Homo sapiens: one gene and its partner. The protein of the gene in region 1 purifies or fractionates together with the protein of each later gene. This does not show direct contact. Each region holds a gene or a part of one and is shown in the gene's direction. Other genes may lie near its edges.

What was found. The genes of interacting proteins can lie anywhere in the genome.
Region 2: the proteins of GABBR2 (region 1) and GNG2 fractionate together in Homo sapiens (co-fractionation; one study listed by IntAct). This does not show direct contact.

What each region holds. Positions count from the first base shown.
Region 1 is NC_000009.12:98,299,526-98,303,435, reverse strand, and holds part of GABBR2 (gamma-aminobutyric acid type B receptor subunit 2 precursor), read left to right. Parts: intron 1-12; coding exon 13-195; intron 196-3,910. UniProt on the Homo sapiens protein: Component of a heterodimeric G-protein coupled receptor for GABA, formed by GABBR1 and GABBR2. Within the heterodimeric GABA receptor, only GABBR1 seems to bind agonists, while GABBR2 mediates coupling to G proteins.
Region 2 is NC_000014.9:51,867,112-51,870,611, forward strand, and holds part of GNG2 (guanine nucleotide-binding protein G(I)/G(S)/G(O) subunit gamma-2 precursor), read left to right. Parts: intron 1-3,500. UniProt on the Homo sapiens protein: Guanine nucleotide-binding proteins (G proteins) are involved as a modulator or transducer in various transmembrane signaling systems.

The sequences.
Region 1 (3,910 bases):
TTGTCCTTTCAGCTCATCACCCTGAGAACAAACCCAGATGCAGCAACGCAGAACAGGCGATTCCAGTTCACTCAGAATCAGAAGAAAGAAGATTCTAAAACGTCCACCTCGGTCACCAGTGTGAACCAAGCCAGCACATCCCGCCTGGAGGGCCTACAGTCAGAAAACCATCGCCTGCGAATGAAGATCACAGAGGTACCTCCCTCTGCATCTGGTAGCTGGGCCCTGTCTGCCACTGAAGCCCCTCTAACCCTGTGCGGGGACTCTCAGGCTCCTCTAGACCATCCCTGCAGCATGACCGTGCAGTCTCATCAGCTGCAGTTGCAGCTGCGAGAGCCAGGGGTGACATAAACCACACAGAGGCATTTGTCAGAATCCAACATGAGCTTATTGCCCACCTCACCCAGGCTCTTGGAGGCCAGCAACACCTGATTCAAGCCATCCCCAGACAGAAAGGAACTCAGGGAGATTTGTGAGCTTCTGGATTATCATAGCTTCCTACGTCAGTGTCTCTTTATCTGTGTCTCTCTCCCTCTCAGTTTTTCACTCTCCCAGCACAACCCAGCAACCACCACATCTATGTGATGTACAAGAGAAGAGAAAGTGAAAAGAAACTTTTCAAGAGAGAGTGCTGCAGCAGACCTCGCCTTTGTCCTGAGGGTTCTCAACTGGTTCTTGAATATTCCAGAGAGACCATAGCCAGATTGCCTTGTGCCCAAGCCAGGCTTGGCTTGTAGACCAGGGAAGGGAAAACAAATTACCTCCCCTCCTCTACCCCTCCCTTTGGGTTGGAGGTATGCCTGAACCCGTGCTCTGCAGGCTGTGTGTTGCTTTAATAGAGGAATTCTGATTAGGGAGGGGGACAGGAAAGGGACCAAGGAAAGTACATTGGTTACAATGCTGGCTAAACAAGGCCCCAAAATAAAGTGGCCCAGAGAAAATATGTTTATTTCCCTTTTACCTAATGGCCGTGAAAAGAGAGGGCCCGGTTGGGGCAGCTCTGCTCCCCAAGGTCATTGCTGGGCTTGGTTCCTGCCCTCTGGTTTTCCCCACTCTCCAGGGTGTTCTCTTCATTCATAGCGGGAGAGCTGGGTGGACAGCATGTCCTGTTCACAGTGTCAGGAGGGGAAGAGATAGAAAGTCCACATGAGGGATTGCCTTTTAAGCAGTAACACCAAAAATTGTGCATATTTTGGTTCTGCCCTAGTCACATCAACAAAAACTGACATGAGCACACCTAGTGAGAGGAGAGGCTGGGAAACGTCGTCTCTAGCTGGACAGCTGCAAGGAAGAAGTGAGACATAGGGTTGCCAGATTAGATATGGGATGCCCAGTTAAATTCAGACTTCAGATCAACAACCAATCATATTTTCAGTAAAAGTTTAGCCCAAGTAATACTTGAATATACTTATACTAAAAAAGAACCCATTATCTGAAACTCAAATTTGACTGGACATTCTGGATTTTTATTTGCTAGATCTGGCCGCCCTTTGGGGGGCTCACAGAATTCTGCCACAGAGAGCCACCATACAGTTGTCTGTGCACCTAAAGATGACTGCTTTAGGATGAGGTAACCCACCATCAGCTGCCAGAGCAAACTAAGAAGGGTTTCTGTCCCCCAAAGCCCATTACAGGCTCTGTTTCAATATCAGACCTCTCCTGATGAGTACGACCATGTCACTGCATTTCACTTCTACTTGCACACTTCAGCAATGAAGAGTTCAGTCACATTAGGAAACCCAGGCCACTATTTAAAACTCTTAAATGTTGTGTTATTTTTCCCGGAAATGAATCACAATCTGGCCTCCTGTTGTCCCCACCCTTTGATCCTACTCCTGCCATTTAAGTCACATAGAAAAGAGTATCTCTTTCCCTCCTCCTCCACATGAAAACGTGTTAAACAATTTCATGGCTGTGTTCCTGACATCAGAACAGCCTCTGATAGTTTATCAGGTCTCCTCCCTTATACTACAGCAGGATGCTGTTTGGAAAAATCCTCTAACCATGTTTTTCCTGTGCTCTTGCACCAACACAACAGTCAACGCAGAAGACTTCTGTGACCAAATGTGTGTGGGGTTTTCCCCACCAACGAGCAGCAGGCACCCGCTGGGTGCCTCCAGTTCAAATCCAATGCTACATATCTAGAGATAGCTTCAGATCCCACAGGTTGAGGGCTCAGTCCCCAAGGCTCCCCCTGACCCCCACCCTACCCTCAGATACCAGTCATAAGTCAGGCCTCTGGAACTTCTGACCAGCCAGCTTCAAGTTGGGACTCCCAGGATCCTGCTTTGGGTTGAATTAATTTGCTAGAGGGGCTCACGGAACCCAGGGAAACACATTTACCAGCTTATTACCAAGGACATGAATGAAGAGATGCACAGAGCGAGGACGGGTGAAGGGGTGTGGAGCTTCCCTGCCTCCCTGGGCCCCATGCTCCAGGAACCTTCACGTGTTCAGCTACCCAGAAGATCTTCATACCCTGTTCTTTTGAGTTTTTATGGAGGCTTCATTACACGAGGCATGACTGACAACTGTGTAGAAATGTGATTGGACAAAAATGCATGATCTAAACCCAGCAAGGCCTTTCTGCTCAGAATTTTCTTGGCCTCTCTGTAGCATTCCTTCCTCCAGGGTATGGGGCAAGACTTTCTCTCTGTGATAAAGGTCTTTTGACCTACATCAGATTACAGTCCTGCCTTGAGCAGGTGAGAAAGGACAGGAGAAGGTCAGAGAGAGTGATTCTGTTTCATGAGGCCCGCTCCTGAGGCCTAAAATGCCCCAACATTATAACAAAAGACTCTTACAAGAGATATAGCAGCCAGGAATCATGGATGAAAGCCATTCTATTATACAGATATGGTAATATCACAGATGTTCAACACCCATCCCGACTACCACCCCCAACAACTACCAACACTCATATTGCCCAGGCTTCTCTGGGGCTGAATTGCCCCCAGGACTTGCACCTGATTTTTGTATAACCTGGGAATGGGCCAGGTGCTGTGGCTCACACCTGTAATCCCAACGCTTTGGGAGGACAAAGTGGGAGGATCGCTCGAGCCCAGGAGTTCAAGACCGGCCTGGGCAACATAGAGAAGACTTGTCTCTAAAAATAAAAACGTGGGGATGACTGGGACCCATCCTGATTAACTCCTCTGAGTGAGACCCTGCAGGTCAGAGTCTCCATGATAGTGTGAGGCTCAGAGCTCGCGAGCCCTGCATGTCTGTCCTCCACTGTGGGTCCTATTAAGTATCAGTAATAGTAATTATAAGGCCAGGCACAGTAGTTCATGCCTGTAAACCCAGCACTTTGGGAGGCCAAAGTGGGAGGATTGCTTGAGCTCAGGAGTTCAAGACCAGCCTGAGGAACATAGAGAGACCCCATCTCTACCAAAAAAAAAAAAAATTAGCCAGACATGGTAGCATGCACGTGTAGTCCCAGCTACTCAGGAGGGTGAGACAGGAGGATTGCTTGAGCCTAGGAGATCAAGGTTGCAGTAAGCTATAATTGCACCACTGCACTCTAATCTGGGTGACAGAGTGAGACCCTGTAATAATAGTAATATTATTATAGTAGCAAGTTGCCCTTATTATGTTTCAGACACTGGGCTAAACTTTCCATGTATTATCTTGTTTGATCTGCACAACCTCCCCCTGAGGTAGGTACTATTATTACCCCATTCTACAGAAAAAGAAATTGAGACTGGGTTCTCACAAGCCAGAAGAACATCACTGCAAGTAAGGGGCAGCCTTGGGTTTGCATAAGTCCTGTCCAGAGCCTTAGCTCGTATGCTCTCCCTGCCCTTCCTCCCTGAGCTTGCTTGTCTGCTTCATCAAGGCCCAAGCCTACACTGAACACATAATTGCAAAGCCCAGGTCCCTCTTATCATAGCTTCTCCTTGAACAAAGA
Region 2 (3,500 bases), on another chromosome or scaffold:
CTACCTCTCTGCGGGCTCCAACTTCACTAACTTCAGTTCCTGCTCCCCAAATATGAGTGTTCTCAAGATACGAGTCTTTGGCCATTTAATTTCTCCCTCTCCCTAATCAAATTCTGTCCTGTGATTTTAGTCACTGTTGCTGTGTGGGTCAGTCCCAAATCTGATGAAGCATCCTAATCATTCACCTCCTCTCTCAGCTTGTACAGCAAGCTGCCTGCAAATTCACCAGAACATCCAACCCACAGAAAATGAAACTCACATGTCCAAAACTGTGCTCACCATCACCTTTCCCACTCCTCAAAACCAGCTCCTCACCTGATTTCATAATTGTTAATGACACCCCATTTATCATTACCTCAGTTATGACAATTCAACTTCACTGTCTTCCTCACCAAGCACCTCTAGTTGCAGGAAGTTGCATGGCTCCTTGCAATTGTGATTGGGAAAATATCTTGATACTGACTCTTTTCCATGTTTATAGCCGGTGTCTTAGTTGAGGCCCTCCTAACCTCCAGCTGGGCTGACTTGTTTTTTGAGTTCTTTTCTCTCCGCCTAGGATAAGTTAGTTCCTGCTTCCCCTTCCACACTTTGTCCCCACAGTCTTACTTCTCTGAATAACCAAATTCCATCTGTCCTGTAAAGCTCAGTTCAAATGCTGCCTCTTTCATGAAGCCTCCCTTGGTTTCTTCCCTTTTTTCCCCAATAAAAAAACAATGCTCCTCTGAAATCTTTTGTTCTTTCATCACAGCATCTAGCTCATTCTAGTGTGTATAACAGCAATCTGCATAATTTTTTTTTTTGACCACACTCCAAGCTCTTTGAGGACAGCGGTCACATCTGGTTTCATCTTTGTCTTCCTTATACCACACAATGCAGTTTGTTTATCATTCATTTATTTAATGAACATTCTTGAGTGACTCATTTTTTGATGCAGAGTGGGCTAGACATAGTACTTGTCCTCTAAGAGCTCACAAACTCATGGGGAAAACAGACAAATACAGAAATATAATTACAATAGAATTAATCGATGTGTTCAAAGTCCTAATGTCTGCAATGTGCCATGTGCTCGTCAAGATGCCAGGGAGACTAGGATGAACAAAACTGGTCGGTTGTTTTCTTGAAACTTACATTCGAGTATTGAGAGAGACTCAGTAAACACATAAACCAGTGGTTTTTAGGTCTAACTGCACATTAGAAATCACTGAGAGGGTAGTTTGAAAAAAATATCATGTCCCAACCTCACCTCAGAGTAATTAAATCAGAATCAACCAGGATTGGAACCATTGACAGAAATGACTTACAATAAAAGAAAATGTCAAGTAGTAGTGAGTGCTTTGATGGATTGAAGTAGAAACAGGGTGAATGGTGGGACTGTGCCTATGCTGGCAGGGGTAATTGGGAGATTACTTTGTTGAGTAATCCCTGAAGGCCTCTCTGAAGAGGTGACATTTGAGTTGAGACCAAAATGATGCTGAGGATTCAGCCATGTAAAGATATTGGGGCGAAGGGGGCTTGTGGAGAAGGTTTTGAGCAGAAGGTGCAGGTGCCTTTCTGAAATAAGAATGAGGTGAGATTTCAGAGGAAATGTGTCCTTCTTCACATACATGTTCTGTAATCTACAAACTATGTCTTTTTCCCTACAGAAAGCAGCTTTTCGATAAACTTTGTAGACTCCAAATGCAGAACACTTGGCTGCTGTGTTGATTACTTGATCTGGGTTGGATTTTATTTAGTTCAAATTGATTTACACAGTCAGGAAGACTACTCTGTTTGATTACATTTTTTTCTCTACACTGCAATCAGCACTACACTACTTGTCTGAATTAAATACCATTCTTATTGTTTAAAATAACCTTAGGTACTTGATATTATCTTTATTTGAATAAAGAGGAGAAAGCAATGACTTCTGCCCTTATTCCTGTTTTGGGGAACCAGGGAAAGCCTCCTAGAGGAGTCATTCAGACCACACAGAGTAAAGAAAGCACTAACTAATTTGAATAAGTGAAGACTAACATATGTCAAGAATTAAGTTGAGAATGAACATTTGTTAGGCATTCAGTTTGTGCTGGATACTTTAGCTAGTTTTAAAAATAACCCTACGAAATAAGGACAATATTTTTCTATCAGGATATTTCTGGCTGCTGATAAAGGAATGTCCTACTAAAATGGCGTAAGCAATAGGAAATTGATCGCAAGACCTCTGATAGGAGGGTAGCTTCAGAGTTACTTATGTGGTAGCTGGATAATGTCCTTAGCAACCTGGATTCTTCCCTTCCTCCCACTGTGACACCTTCAGCAGGTTGATTTCCCCTCACTGTGTGGACATGGCGTCTACAATTTTGGAATTATAGGCATATTTCAATACGTAGAGGCATATCAAGGTGCAGCAGATTTCTTATGTGGCTCTTTCTGGTTTGTTGAAACAGGGCCTCGGTCTGTCACCCAGGCTGGGGTGCAGTGGCATGATCATGACTCATTGCAGCCTCAGCCTGCAGGTGGGAGGCTGATCCTTTCACCTCAGCCTCCTGAGTAGCTGGGACCACAAGTGTGTGCCACCATGCCCAGCTAATTTTTGTATTTGAGTAAAGATGGGGTTTCACCGTGTTACCCAGACTGGTCTTGAACTCCTGAGCACAATAGATCCACCCACCTCGGCCTCCCAAAGTGCTGGGATTACAGGCCTGAGCTACCTTGCCCTGCCGCGGCTCTTTTTAAAGTCACAGAAAATCTGTGTCCAGTGGAATTTCCACTCACAACTCACATGCTATATGTATGAGTAAGTAGGCAGACAGAACCACTGTGATTGGCTAATTTAAGAGTTTCCTCCCGAGGCCATGGAGCAGCCCAGGCTCGCTGAAGAACAAAGTCATCAGACCCCAGCAAAAGGGTCTGGTTCTATTAGCAAGGAAGAGGGGGTTAGTGGGTAGGCAGTCAATAGAGTTGGCCACTATTATTATTCCCATTTTATAAGTGAAGATATCCAGACTAAAAAGGTTAAATAACTGAGCAATATCATACAACATTGAATTGAACAAAGTTTCCATGCATTTCCCTTTGAGAAAAACACGAACAAAAGCCTTGTTTTTGGCTATATAACAAACCTGCACGTGTACCCCTGAACCTAAAAGAAAATATTAAGAAAAAAAAAACAACTTGTTTTTGTTGTTAGCAATGATCTAGGTAGGCCAGAGGAAGAATCCTGGCGAAAAACACAGACTGGAGAAAGCTAGGCAAAGTAAAGAATAACCTTCTAAACAAAATATTCCAGAAGGAAATACATCAGGTCCTATAAAGCAATAAGAATGGCATTTAATTTAGACAACCAGCCCTGCATTTCTGCATTGTAAAATATATATATAATTAAATTGCATTTTCCTGACTGGTCATTTAAATCAATTTGGTCTATATAAAAATCTACCCTGGGCCAAGTAATGAGCTAGAGACGCCAAGCATTCTGTGTATAGTATCTGTCAGACTTAAATGAAAACCTTGTTTTCTCT